Homo sapiens: one gene and its partners. The protein of the gene in region 2 purifies or fractionates together with the protein of the main gene of each other region. This does not show direct contact. Each region holds a gene or a part of one and is shown on either strand. Other genes may lie near its edges. The genes, in order: POLA1, RABL2A, AKAP11 and FHIT.

What was found.
Region 1: the proteins of RABL2A (region 2) and POLA1 purify together in Homo sapiens (affinity purification with mass spectrometry, with the first as the bait; one large-scale study listed by BioGRID). This does not show direct contact.
Region 3: the proteins of RABL2A (region 2) and AKAP11 purify together in Homo sapiens (affinity purification with mass spectrometry, with the first as the bait; one large-scale study listed by BioGRID). This does not show direct contact.
Region 4: the proteins of RABL2A (region 2) and FHIT purify together in Homo sapiens (affinity purification with mass spectrometry, with the first as the bait; one large-scale study listed by BioGRID). This does not show direct contact.

Annotation. Positions count from the first base shown.
Region 1 is NC_000023.11:24,990,901-24,994,252, reverse strand, and holds part of POLA1 (DNA polymerase alpha catalytic subunit), read right to left. Parts: intron 1-3,352. UniProt on the Homo sapiens protein: Catalytic subunit of the DNA polymerase alpha complex (also known as the alpha DNA polymerase-primase complex) which plays an essential role in the initiation of DNA synthesis.
Region 2 is NC_000002.12:113,626,025-113,630,086, forward strand, and holds the start of RABL2A (rab-like protein 2A), read left to right. Parts: upstream 1-1,241; 5' UTR 1,242-1,376; exon of another isoform or gene 1,377-1,444; intron 1,445-1,590; exon of another isoform or gene 1,591-2,529; 5' UTR 2,530-2,582; coding exon 2,583-2,689; intron 2,690-4,062. UniProt on the Homo sapiens protein: Plays an essential role in male fertility, sperm intra-flagellar transport, and tail assembly.
Region 3 is NC_000013.11:42,275,125-42,278,692, reverse strand, and holds part of AKAP11 (A-kinase anchor protein 11), read right to left. Parts: intron 1-3,568. UniProt on the Homo sapiens protein: Binds to type II regulatory subunits of protein kinase A and anchors/targets them.
Region 4 is NC_000003.12:60,012,931-60,016,498, forward strand, and holds part of FHIT (bis(5'-adenosyl)-triphosphatase), read right to left. Parts: intron 1,335-3,568; exon of another isoform or gene 1,288-1,334; coding exon of another isoform or gene 1,276-1,287; intron 1,223-1,275; coding exon 1,077-1,222; intron 1-1,076. UniProt on the Homo sapiens protein: Possesses dinucleoside triphosphate hydrolase activity. Cleaves P(1)-P(3)-bis(5'-adenosyl) triphosphate (Ap3A) to yield AMP and ADP. Can also hydrolyze P(1)-P(4)-bis(5'-adenosyl) tetraphosphate (Ap4A), but has extremely low activity with ATP.

The DNA of each region.
Region 1 (3,352 bases), on a different chromosome or scaffold from region 2:
AGAATTAAAATGCCCAAAAGGGGTGGAAAAAGAGAGGGGGGCTGCAACAGAAAGACAATTTGAAAGTTCTAATGATCTGAGTCTGGGAATAAACAACAATGGCCCCAACCAGTGTCGGCTGCCTCCCGGCAGGCCAGAGCCACAGGCCAGCAACCCCGTGCATGTGAATGACACAAATGCATCTGATGACTGGGGAGAGCACATTTAAAGAGCTGCGGTAATACGGAGCAGGGGAGGAAAAGAGAGGACATAGCTCCTGATGTGTTTACCTCCTCTGCTGATGGGATATTGACTTTTCCCACCAGGTTGGTTAGAAAGGGGACTATTTACGCTGCCACACAGCAGAGTTAGAATGACAACCAGCGTCACTCGGTGCTCTTCCTCCTAAAAGACAACTGTGACCGCCAGCATATCCCATAGCCAGTCAATACGGCCAAGGCACCATTCCACGCCAGTTAGAGATGCAGATAAAAGCTCCCACTTGCTTCCCCAAAGAGAATTTAATCAATAACATATGGAAGGTCTTCTAGGAAACAGAACTGGACTAGCTGTCACAGGCTGCGTCAGGGACAGGGGCTGGTGGGGGGAAGGAGTCACCCCTTCCTGGTTTTTCTCTTCCCCCTTTAGGCACCTGGGCCACCCACGTTAGGCCTCACATTAAACTGTTACCCTGTTTCTGTCAATACTATATCCACCACTTTAGAACTCAAGGGAAAATACAGGTGTTAACTGGTGGAGGCCAGTTAATGTGGCCAGTAAAACCCTGATTCCTTTTCCTGCTTTGATTTTGAGAGTCAGCCTATCAGTAACGACGCCATCACCTCAGGTGCTGCAGGTCAGGTGCCCAATAACAACTGTTAAAAGATTCCAACATGCCATTAGGCAAGAGCCAGAGAAGATCCGCAGCCATCCCATCCCTGTCCACAGAGATGCCACTGGCCCTGGTAACTGCTGTCTCCGCCACCAGCACCACAAAGCCAACCTTTGTCGAGATCGGGGAGGAAATGCTCTTCCTACACACAAGTGCGTCACTGAAATATACTCTAATGGCTTGAAGTATCACCCAGAAATCACTCATCTTAATACATCAGCAAAGCTAATCTCCTTTTTAAACTTTTCTTGAGAATAACATTCGAGGAACGTGTATATAAAGCTTATTTACTCTGATCCTTTCTACATGCTCTGATTCCCTGTGGTTATATGTTAATTACCAAAAATATTCTGTCCCTAACCCCTATGAAAACGATGGAAAAAAAGGGTAGCCTAGATACTAATTATTCACAAAATATTTTATCAGACTACAAAATGAACTGCTCATTTAAAAGTTGATTTCTATTGATTAGAATCTAAAACCTCAAAATAATGAAAGTTACATTCTTTTCTATATGGGATGAACTAGACCATCATCTGTAGGTTGACCTTTCTTAAATATTTTATATAAAAGTCAACTGATCAAATAAAATGCTAGCTCTATTAAAATAATGGAGTATTCTCCCATCTAAGGAAACTAACTCTACTTCACATATTTTAGTTCCATGTCAGTAAACCAAAAATCTCTTTTCAACTTTACTCTTTATAAAACCCTTTTTGGACTTAAAGAAACACACTGAACTAGAAACCACGAGGCAAAGACATTTTAACATCGCCTACTGGTTATTTTCTTTTAATTAAGGCAGGCTTAGGCACACAGGCAGCAGCCGTCTCTGTTCTGAATGTCTGTTTCATTTATTTCTGTACAAAGGTATCAAACAACAGTCAGTTATAATTGATTCTGTCAGGTGTTATACAGTCAGTCATAATTGTCTCTGTGTAGAGGTGTGTCAATTTACTATATCTGAATTAAATATTCTGTCAATTATGAAATCAGGTAATAATTTCAGTCAGTTTTTTAATTGCATGGCTTCCCACCATACAGTTCTCAGTTCTCCCACCTTTTCCAATCCATAGCCTCCCTCCCTCAATGCAACGTGAGCTTTGCAGTAAGGGGTGGAATGCAGGAAGCTTTAGAAAAATTTGAAAGAAAACTGCACCCCTCTACGCTCTCTACACGTAGAGCCATCCGACCTACAGAGAGCTGCTGGAGCCTCTGGCCTGCCTTTTTCCTGAATATCGATCCATATAACTGAGCTTCCGGCTATGCACAGTACCTGAAAGATTTCAAGTGACATCCATATTTTAAACTCAAAGACATTTAGGGCCCCAAATCAAATGGCAAGTACATAAACATTTCTCAAAGTAAGAAATGAAAAGAAATAATCTTTGAGTCAATTCTTATTTAGAAAAAAAAAATTCACAAGGCACAGTGCCAGGCACACACAGTGATCAATGTGTCTATCAATTAGCCAATGCCTAGAGGACCATTCTCACCCATTAAATCACATCTTAGATGCTAAAATATTTCTGAAGGCTTGAAGAGTCTGTTAGTCCACTATCCAGTTCCATTCCTACTTAGAAATAATTATCTTCAGTTTTCTTTCTTTTTTCTTCTTTTATGTTGATACCAAAATACAGCCTTCAAGAAGAATAAAATATCCATGGTTTAGCTCAAGTGCTCTACTAGGCTGTAGGCTGATCTGACAAGTATTTAGAAGTGTGATTATAATTCTCTCCACCATTGGTCTGGTTCATGTTCAATAAACACAGGCTTGCTGCAGCCTGGTGGTGGTGAACAGTGACCCTTCACACTCAAAGCAAATGGAGGTGCCATGGGGCCCAACTACCAGGAAGGGTTGTTCAGTGGAAGTTTGGGGAAGAGCAGAGGCCGATGCGAGAAGGGAGGAGACAGAATAAAGCAATGTAAAGAATGCCACTTCTATAGACAAGAATAGAAGGTAAGAGTCGTGCCCCTTACCATGTTTCAGTGGCAAAAGAGTCACCTTGAAAGAGATAAAAAATTTCCTTTCAACTGGATGAAGTGATTCTCTCAGGGTTGGGTTTTGGGTGTTTGCATTTGTCATGTCGGAAGAAAATTGCCCATGCAGCCCCCTTGCTGAGGTTATAAAAAGTACTGTCAACCATACTGGACAGAATTTTTTTTTGGGTGGGTGTGGGGGGGGAGGTTGTAGAGAAGGAAAAAAAAAAAAGAAACACATTGTGCAGGATCATTAAGCACTGTTGTATAAATAAAGTTAGAAGATCAAACGAAAGAGGGGACTCGGGTTAAATGCTGGAAGACAAGCTTAAATAAAGTTCTAAGAAAAAAGCAAGGCACGCTGTAATTCCAAGAACCTATTACTTCAGACAATTTACTTCAAAAAATAAAATCAGAATGGTAAATGATTACCAAAAAGCAATCATGTCATCATCACTGAGAGATGGAATAAAATAATTTTTTGTGAAGTGGCTGAATGAG
Region 2 (4,062 bases):
CTAAAACCAAGCTGTGCCCTGACCACCTTGGGCACATGTCGTCAAGACCTCCTGAGGCTGTGTCACGGGTGCACGTCTTTCTAAATTACCTGAAACCATCTCAGATAGGGTTCACACATCCCTTTCCCGAACCCTCCCAGGAGCCCCTCGTGGGCGCCCAGGTCCTGCCTGCTGTTGTGGCCCAGGCTCACCTGGAGCAACTCGACTCTTCGTTACAGCCTCGTGAACCTTTCAGTTCCTAAAGCTGTCTAGCCTGTGAAAGGAAAATGAATCTGGGGGCCCCAAAATCACTAAGCTAAAGGGAAAAAAGCTGGGAACTGCTTAGGGCAAACCTGCCTCCCCATCTATTCAAAGTCACCCCTCTGCTCACTGAGATAGGTTAATATGTGATAGCCTCCTTTGCGGAGGCTATTCAGAAACCCGAAAGAATACAACAGTTTGTCTCTCACCTACCTGTGACCTGGAAGCCCCCTCCCTGCTTCGAGTTGTCCCGCCTTTCCCGAGGGAACCAACGTTCATCTTACATATATTGATGTCTCCTGTCTCCCTAAAATGTATAAAAGCAAGCTGTGTCCCGACCACCTTTGGCACATGTCAAGACCTCCTGAGGCTGTGTCACGGGCGTGCGTCCTCAACCTTGGCAAAATAAACTTTCTAAATTGACTGAGACCGTCTCACATATTCGAGGTTCACAAGCCCATGCATGGGGACGTCCCCTGGGGTAGCGCCCCTCCTCCACTGAGCTCACTCGCTTCCTCCTTGTGTGTTTTCTTCAGAAGAAATTTCACAGCTACTTGGTCCACACCTGTCTGCCCCACAGGAACCTCTCTTCTCCACAGGCACATGGGCGGCGTACCTGCTGGGCTGTGTGGAGAGGACCGGGTTCCTCTCCTGATTCCTGCTCAGTTAATAACGAATGTCGACAAGTCGAGAAAATTGCTCAAATTTACCCCATCAAAGAATTAAAAACTGGTGAAAGCTTGACCTGCGCCCCCCACCCCTGACGTGCTCACCGCTCCACTCCCTCTAGGCGGGCGGCACCCGCTGAAGCCTCAGTACCACACCCACAGCCAGGAGCCCCAGTCCCGCACTCGGCCGCATGCGCACTCCCTGCGGCCCTCCCGCCAGGCGCCGCGCTGGGCAGCCAGCGCCCCGGCGGGGTCCTTCAGGCCTTCGGCCGGGCAGCCTCCCTCGGGGTCCTTGCGCGGTTGCGTAGCAGCTGCGAGGACGCGGGGCGAGCCGGAAGTGGAGTGCGCTGCGGTGCGAGCTGGGCCGGCGGGGTGGTTCGAGAGCGCGCAGAGTCCAGACTGGCGGCAGGGCCCGAGGGGCCGACCCGCAGCGTCCCTGGTCTCTCCAGCCCTCACTCGGAACCGCACGTGAGGGCAAATCCGCCCCGGTGGCTGGCTTAGCACGCGGGGACAGCCCCTCCGAGGCCTCCCTAGCGGTGTGGGCGAGAGGGCGTCCGGGTCGGGGGAAGCACGGAAAGGTGGCTTCGCGAGGCTGTTGTGGGGGGCGGGACGGGCAGCCTGGCGATGCCTGGACATGGTTGGTGGCCAAAAACATTTATCGAAAGATAGCATACCCACTTAGATGGCGAGGACATCGACAAGCAAGTCTTCGCCCGTAAGCGGTGGCTCACGCCTATAGTCCAGGGATGCCGAGGAGGGAGGATCGCTTGAGTCCAGGAGTTGGAGGCTGCAGTGAGCCGTGATCGCGCCACTGCACTCCAGCCTGGGCGACAGAGTGAGACCCTATCTCTAAACAAAAGAAAGAACGTCTTCAAGCATGGAGCCATGAAGCTGGATTTGGCTTTCTGTCGCTCTCTCTACAGGGTACAGGTGAAAGGGGGCAGACCCCTCATCATGCTTTCCAGGCATCTGCCACTTCCCAGGAATTGTCTCCCTGGATAAACAAGGCGAAGTCCCTGGCTGTGCAGAAGCAGTAGCTGTGTGGTGGCACAGTCAGGAAAACTCGGGGGCCCTGTTGGTATTTTCTACCCCTGACCCGTGTGCATACTTCTGTCGTAGCTCTCACCACAGTAGACTCTGCTATCATTGTGTCTTCCATCCTCTGAACCCTGTGCAAGGTCTGCTCATGGTGAATGCCCAGTAAGGCTCACCTATTGCTGCTATCTCATCATCATATCATTTCTATGTGCCCCCCTAGCTAAGAGTCTGGACTGTGGTTACATTCTCAGGAATGTCTGCAAAGTCATATTTAGGTGTGAGGAGAGTAAAACAGAGCTAGACATAATGTTGCACACAGCCTTTGGCACTGGATGCCTGGTGAATGTCTTGTGCAAATGGGTAACGTGAGGAGCAGCATTTGGGGTGCGCAGGACTTAACTATTTGTGTATAACATATTACTGATGCCTGTGTGTCATCCTCTGCTACTCCAAGTCTAGTAGCCAATTGCATACCATATCTCAGTCTGGCACTGAGGGAAGCAGTCTGGATGGAGGTACAGCTGGAGATTTGGTTGAGGGGACTTATCTCTGACAACAGCCTCTTGTTGATCTTCCCAGACAGTGACAATACCCTCCCCTCCCTTGGGCTGGACCCCTCTCTACAGCTAGGAGCCAATGGCAGAAGACAAAACCAAACCGAGTGAGTTGGACCAAGGGAAGTATGATGCTGATGACAACGTGAAGATCATCTGCCTGGGAGACAGCGCAGTGGGCAAATCCAAGTATGTTGGGAGATTAGGGAATAAATACCAGCCCCAGAGAGGGTCCAGGTCATTTAAAAAGTCCTCCAGAGGCAGAGGAGCATGGCTTCTTGGGGCTGGTGAAGGAGCAGTCTTGGCTGGAGCCCAGATGTTCATGGGGGAACGAGGGGAATCACATGACCCGTTGTGTGTGTCGGGTGGAGGGGGCAGGTCATAAGGACTGAGGAATTTGAATGTTTCCTCTGAGCCCTGAGAGAACGTGTGGAGCAACTGAGGACATTGTATGTGGTTTGTGGGCTGAGGGATGGCAAGGGCGGGGAGTGGGAATGGAAAGACAAAAGTGACTATGCCACCGTGACAGATTGGGTAAAGGTGGTAAAGATGCTTTCTTGGAGGGACTCTCTGAAATAGAGAAAACTGGGTAGAACTGACGATTGACTATAATCATTGTGAAGACTGGCTTCTTCTTGTAATGAATTTCGGTGCCTACATGCCACCTGGAGAGGTGAAGGGAGGCTCTGCCGTGCTGCCAGCTTGTCTCCATGAGACGTCCTAGTTCTCACGCCTAGGACTGCTGAGGGCACATGTCCATTTCCGCCTTCATAGCATGACGGTACACTTGCCCCTGCCCAGAGAAGTGGTCACGTTTATCTCCCAAGTACTCCAGGCCCACCTTGGTTTCTACCTTCATTTTTATAGTCAAGTCCTTTGACTCAGGTAGCTGTGAATAATTCTCTGGGGGCTTTGCTGGTTTTTAGGCCATCTCCATGAATTTGAATTCTCTGTCTCTCTCTCTCTCTCTCTTCCCCACCACACAATCACACACTGCAGCTCTGGTTTAGAATTTTTTTTTTTTTTTTGAGACGGAGTCTCGCTCTGTCCCCCAGGCTGGAGTGCAGTGACGTGATCTCGGCTCACTGCAAGCTCCGCCTCCCGGGTTCACACCATTCTCCTGCCACAGCCTTGCGAGTAGCTAGGACTACAGGCGCCCGCCACCACACCCAGCTAATTTTATTTTTGTATTTTTAGTAGAGACGGGGCTTCACCTTGTTAGCCAGGATGGTCTTGATCTCCTGACCTCGTGATCCGCCCACCTCAGCCTCCGAAAGTGCTGGGATTATAGGCATGAGCCACCGCGCCCGGCCTCTGGTTTAGTATTTTATAGTTACTTTGACCATCCTCAACAGCACGCCTGTACAGTAAAAGTGAGGGTAGGTGTTGTAGTTTGGGAAGGTTACCCAATAAATAATACCCCCTTTATCCCCACTCAAGTTTAAAACAACAAAGAATAGAAATGGCAGGCAGGTGTAGAGCAAATTGCCACTTTAATAACAAACAGAGCTTTCGGAGAATGTATCTTGGTATACCCAGCTCCCAAGTTCAATGCTAGTCTC
Region 3 (3,568 bases), on a different chromosome or scaffold from region 2:
CAATCCCTTTTAAACAGTTAAAATATAACTGTTTAAAAATAGTAACAATTAATTAGAGGGTTTAAGACAGACATATTGATAAAATGTATGACAAAATAGGATAAAAAATGTGGCAGGGGAGATGGAGACAAAAAAAGACTGTCATAGATTTCTACATTAAACATGAAGTGATGTTATTTGAAGAAAACCTGTAATAAGTTATCTTGTAAACCCTAACACAAACACTAGAAAAATAAAACAGAATAATACCTAATAGGTGAACAGCAGAATAAAAGTGATGTTATCCCCCTTTTTGCAAATAAGGAAGCTAAGTTCCTTTCTTGGGTACAGACCTGTTATTTGACTTACAAAATCTAAAACTACTACAGCTATCAGATACTATTTTGTTTTTCAAAACAACAGTCAATCGTATAAAATGATTTTAGTATGTCTTAATATCTATTAAGATATTTGCTTCTTTATAGTTTCTGCCTTTTTCCTTTTTAATCCTCAACCTCATTCCTGCATTCACAATATATATGTTCTTACCGCTACAGAGTTTCTCAATCTCAGCATTACTAACATTTTGGGTCAGATAAGTCTTTGTTGTAGGAGGCTGTGTATGCATGGTAGGACACTTAGCAGCTTCCTTGGCCTCTACCCACTAGATGCCAGTAGCACTCAGTTGCAGTAACCAAAACTGTCTCCAAATATTACCAAACATTTCCTTGGGGAGCAAAATCACCACTTACCCTATTTTAGCACTTTAGACTACAGTGCCTTATGTAACAGTTAAATGTCTACATGTCTATGCCCTGCACTGGACTGTAAGTACTACCAACGTTCAACACATACATTCACCAAGCGTCTAAGTAACAGTGATTGGGATACAACAGTGAATTTCATTCCATCGCCATGCCTTACTCATCTCTGCATTCCCCAAAGGCCTTACTCATAATAAGCAACTATAGATTTACTGAAGTGAACGAGCTGTACGGTGAAGAGAAATTTCATCAATGACGTGAATGCAGACAGGCATTTGGTGGCAAAAGCAACATCACCAAATAGAAAATAGGGCCACTTACCTAATGACTTTTTACAAAATTAATCCAAGAATATTTGTTCTGTCACTTTTGTTTTCCCAAACAGTCACAGAGAAAAATTATTGATTTTTCAACTGCATTCCAGATTGAGATCTACTTATAAGGTATGTTTGAGCCCAACTAGCCACTGGTATTGAAAGGAATAACATGGGTCTAGTTGACAAAGTACTAAGTGTGAATGGCTACTGACTTCAAAACTACTTATTCAGCAACAATAAACACAACTTTTAAACATGCAACGGTCCATTGTTAGAAGTTAATTAGAATAATCAGATGAAGGCAGGAGGATAAAACAGTTAACATTTTCATAATAAAAAACTCATTAGACCTACATTTGAATACAGTTTTAAGAAATCACTGTAAAGGATATATGCCCTCAAATGATTATCTTAGTTTCACTATTGAGTGTGCATCTGTAATATATTTGACTTTCAAAAATATTTTCAACAACTGATTTATAATAAAACTTTGTATATGTGTATGGCAATATTATAAGGATGATATGCTATAATTAAAATGCTATGTAATTGAATACCTACAAAAAAATGCAACAACAAAAAACTAAAATCTTGAGATTGTGCTTTCAACATGAATATGCTCCCTAGAAAATGGAGTAACATTCTTAATCTTGTACGTAGCCCTATCCACAAGACTATTTCTAACAGAAAATATGTTCAGAATTTTAACCCAGGAACACATTTCTTTTTATCAGTGACATCTATGACGCCATGACTCTAAGAGTATATTGCTGAAAAGGCATTTAAGTAGCTCTTACAGATATAAGGATCTATCCTAAGCTGCCAGTAGCCGAAATAAGTCAACAGATCTACTTTGCAGATGGGCCAGTCATAGGAAGCACCCAAAAGCCCACACAGAACCTATTAACTAACAGGGTATATTACAGCATAAAAAAAGAAGAATGTGAAAAATAACTTTAAGGTTTTAAGCCTGGGATGCTGAAAGAAAATTTTTTTCTTTGCAAATCAGAAGGTAAATCAGAAGGCTTTGCAAATTAGAAGGTAACTGGAAGACAGTATTTTATATCAACATAGGAATATCCAAGAGGCTAGGTACAGTGGGCGCATACCTGTAATCCCAGCACATTGGGAGGCCAAGGCAGGTGGACGGCTTGAGCCCAGGAGTTTGAGACCAGCCTGGCCAACACGGTGAAACCCCACCTCTAAAAAAATATAAAAATTAGCTAGGCGTGGTAGCACACACCTGTGGTTCCAGCTACTCGGGAAGCTGAGAAGGGAGAATCGCTTGAGCCCTGGGAGGAGGAGGTTGCAGTGAGCCAAGATTGCGCCACTGCACCCTAGCCTGGGTGACAGAGCAAGACCATGTCTCAAAACATATAAATTATATAAATAATAATACCCAAAAAAAGAACTAAAAATTAAGAGATTTACTTGGGGTCAGAGATGGAGATGTTACTCTAAGAATAATCCACATATAGAGAACCTGAAAGCTGGTCTCAGCGACTGGGAAAGAACAGAAATTCAAGAGAGCATCTATGAAGACAACCATGATAAAGGGTTCCAGGACCGGCATAAAAGGAACCACAAATAAATGGCAGTCAGAAAGGTAGGTGAGGTAGAGATTTAGAAGAATTTAGTGTCACTGAAGTCAAGAAATGGTTTTAAGCATGAGTGGTCAGCACTGGACTTCTAGACTTCTTGAGGGCAGAAATTCCTTCCTCTCTGAACACGACCAGAAGCCTGTATCACAGTACCTGCCACACGGTATGCTCTCAACAAATACTAATACCGTACCCTTGCATTGTGCCTGCCATATGCCAGACACTGTTTAATTGCTTTACATACATGAATTCATAATTCTCACCACAGAAGGTGCTATTATGCCCATTCTACGCATAGGAAAACTGAGTCATCAAGCATTTCAGTAATTTGCCTGAACTCCCACACCCAGGAGAATCTGTCCTGTAAAGAGACTACTGGTTAGATCTGGTTAGAACATTACCAAGCTGAGAGCAAGTTCAATGCAATGCCAGAGGAAGAACTCAAATTGCAGGATGTTAAAGCACACCTGAGGTATCCATCACTTCCTCCCTGTCCACTCTCCTTTTGTTAAATATGTTGGCATGGCCAGTTTAAAAGGAGCAGCCCTGCAAACTGTGAGACAAATCTAAGTCTCTTCCTCATCCATTTTTCCCATTCCTATCTTTCCTCACTCTCCAGCCAACTGTGCTAGAAGCAGAAACCTGACCAATTGGATTCTCTCTCTAGAAACATAACTGAGACTTGGAGATGTTTGCTGAGAACCATGTTGCATAGTCAGTGAGTCTGATGTTGGCATCATGGCAAACCAAAGTCTCATGCAAATCAAAGTTTTGGGGAAGTGGAAACCAAGAGCTTTAAAGAGAAGGCCAATCTGAAAGAAACTGGAACAGACCTGCGTGAGTAGCAGAGACATAAGACCATGTGCTTCCAGAGAAAAACTGGAAGAGTAACTGCCTGAAGACTTTC
Region 4 (3,568 bases), on a different chromosome or scaffold from region 2:
TCATTTAGTCTCTCCAGAAACACGGTTTGCAACATAAGCTTGATAAACCCACTCTGAACTGAACTACCTGCCTGAAGGGGACTCAAATGGTTTGACATACAACACATACACACAAAGCATTTGGGGGAAGTTTAGCTACTCTTAACACAGACATGGCAGCAAAAAAAGAAAGAAAAAAATCTGTTTGAGAAGAAGATGAGCACTTTTAGTCAGAGCCTTCATAACCTGAAAACACTGGCTTTCTTTATCTGGTCTCTTTGAAGCTCTATGGTAAAGAGCTAAGGAGGGGAGGAAGAATGGCAAACATTCAGTTTAACTAACAGGCTGAGTACAGAGTCCTCACATTTTGAAAGTGTGTCCTTCTAAAGGGCAATTACAGAGTCATCCAATTTCAGAGCCATGAAGGACTTTATACATTGATACCCCAGCCCTTTCCATAGAGGGCCTGAAGGAGCTCATGGTATGTTACTACGGATTTACTCAATTCCCTACTGATGACTCACCATGGACATCCTTCTCCCAACCTGACAACTGTTGGCTCAACCTCTGCCTAAAAATCTTCAGTGACTGGGGATCTGATTTCTTCACTGGTCAGTGGGCCACACCCAACCAGTGAATCTAGCTTCTAACTAATCTGTGATCAATCTCTGCATCTTGAATTAAAGACAGACAAAAGGTAAGGCCCAACCTAAGCTGCATATCACTGCCACCCTGGAATTAGAGCAGGGCTTAGTCTATGCAGTGCTCAAAAATTAGTTACCATGGAATGAAAATGATTTTTCCAGTCCCAGTTCCAGTAAGCAATTTGGAATGTCTGAATGTCCATTAAATCACTTATCCATTACTCCCACCTGCTTGGTAAACAAGCCTCAGACATCACCTTAGACACTATCCCACGGTCCATCTTGGGGCCAATGGACAGTAGGGTTGCCCTGCATTAGAAATCTCTTTTTTTGGCTGCTACCTAAAATACAAACAATCACATCTGCCCTCCTGGTAAGATATCAGGAGGAGCAAGCCCAATGCCGGGATATGAAAGGGAAGAAAAATCATTTCTGAGAAATCTGTACACTCACCTGCATGGAAAAGGTGAGAGAGGTCCCATGGAAATGTTTTTCCACCACTGTCCCGACTCTCTGGGTCGTCTGAAACAAATCGGCCACTTCATCAGGACGCAGGTCATGGAAGCGCTCCACTGGCCGCAGCGGGCACACAAGGACATCTGTAGCAAGGTCTGTTAAGGCCCATGCTGCTGGCTTTGGGTAGTGTTCTTACCAAGCAGTTCATACCCACAGGATTGAATCCTCTCGGACCAGGGCCTGAACTCTCAAAGACTAAGGAATGAAGAAACAGATATTTACCATCCACTGAACTCCAGAGAGTTGAAAGAGAGCTCCCATACATGGATAATTACACTTTGAAGGAGAAGCTGTGGTATGCAGAAGAATTTCTTGCAAAAGAAAGGGACATTCGTGTACAGACAGACTCAAGTGTATGGTGAGATAATTATGCGAGGAGGCAAGATCTATTCTAGATCATTCTCTCTTGACCCCTATTCTAAAGCTGTGTCCGCTTCAGCAGCCAAAGGCACTAGGTTGAAAAAGCAACTGGAATATCTACTTGGTTTCTCTAGGTAGAACATGGGGATAAATTTTTAATTTAAATTATCTCTTTAGAGAAATAAGAAAATTATGCAATGAACATACAAAAGTAGATGTTTATTTTATTTTTAAAAGAGTATAGACATTCTGAAAATGTACAGTGAACTTTATCCATAACTAAGAGAGGTGCCATGTGGTTAAGCAATTTATGACAAGAGTTCCTCAGACTAATTTTTTTTTTAGAATCCAAAAGAAGACATTTGAAGGTAAATCATGAACGAAAGGTTGTCTGTTTATTCAAATAAAGCATTCTTAATGCATTCTACAAGTTAGACAAGGCAACGTATTTACACTATTGGTCTCAGCAACATATAAGATCTGAGAAAAAAGGATAGAAATTTGATTACTTCTTGATAGGAAATTAATATTCACTGTTACACCATCAATAACATTTCAGTCACTATACACACATGTATGCACACATGTGTATATACACACACTATATATATAAATATTTGTTTAGTTTTTAGATACTAACAAGAGAAACAAACTCTTGTACGTTTTTCTGTTTCTTTTTTCTTGTTGTTTTAAGACAGCATGCTCCTGCCTGGAGCTAAGCAGCTGAGGGGCATAATAAAACCATAATTCTGCAATTGCTAGTCTCACTAGAATATCAACCCCATTCCGCTATTGGTAGAACTCAGAGCCCAAGGGGAAACACAACTGAGCTCAGCTGGTCAGGCCTGATTTCCATAAGAGAGAGGGGAAGAGAAAGAAGAAACTGATTAATTTTGCTCATAATCAGGAAATTCATGTCAATGGTAAACTAGGAAAAGAAGCATTTTTAAAATCAGAGTTCATTTTTCAAGAGAGGAGAAGGGAGGCGTTCACCCACAGGGCATCTGATACTTAAAAAGATAATTATCCATCTTTGGCAGGCCCGCTTTATTATCATGGGTCAATGAACCATTTAGAAATGAAGAATTTCCTTTCATTTCCTTTGAGCAGATTGCCAGCCTCCACTCCCACGAAGCTGCTTTTTCTGTGTTAAAAGGGACCCTTCCCCATATTCCTCCTCCCTGATTTGAATTACACCCTCACTTAGGCCTGACTTCACCAAACCACAGCAAGGGTGACAACCATGCAAGCTTCCAACGAAGTCCATAAGTGCTATGTTAGGCTATGTTCACACACAGCAACTCGGTGGGGGAGGAAGACATTTCACTTCAACAATGGCTTACTGTGAAAACTGGTGGAATAAATCAGACAACCTATGTATCTAATGTAAATTTAGTAATATCAATGACATCCAAAAATGTTTTTTTTCAACACCATAAAAAAACTTATTGTTTGTCAATTTTGCTTGTTTGCATGTTGCTCCTAGAAAAACAACTCAGGGAAAGCAAATTAATTAGAAGAACAGCAGATAGCTTTTGTAATTCTAATGCCACTTTTTATATGCCAATTGTTTTAAAATAATATCACAGATGCAATATAATTTAATTTGGAGCCTCTTAGGCCTTGTTAATGGGTAAATTCCATATTATACATAGGCTATGAAGACACATTTACTTCTGGATCCTGTTTGCTTGGGATTATCTCCTCTGTCAAGATTTCTTAGCCAACATGTAGGATAACCTTTAAAGAATTAAAGTTACTATATTGAATTGAATAAATGTTTTATCCAGTACATATCATGTGTGAAAACTTGTGGAACTGGTTACCACTTCTCCCTATAATCTAGAGTATAGAGTTTTTTTAGCAATAATATTTTTTAAAGGAAGCGAAGGTCAATAGTTATAATTTAGGTTGTATAGCTGACAAGGAGATTTCTCACAGTAGATGAAAACCAAAGGCGACTTCTTAGAGCAGATGAGATTTAAACTGGACTTTAAAAATTGGGGAGTGATTTAACCAGTGGATTGGGCTGGCAACCTACTCACTCATCCATCCCAACACTGCAGTCT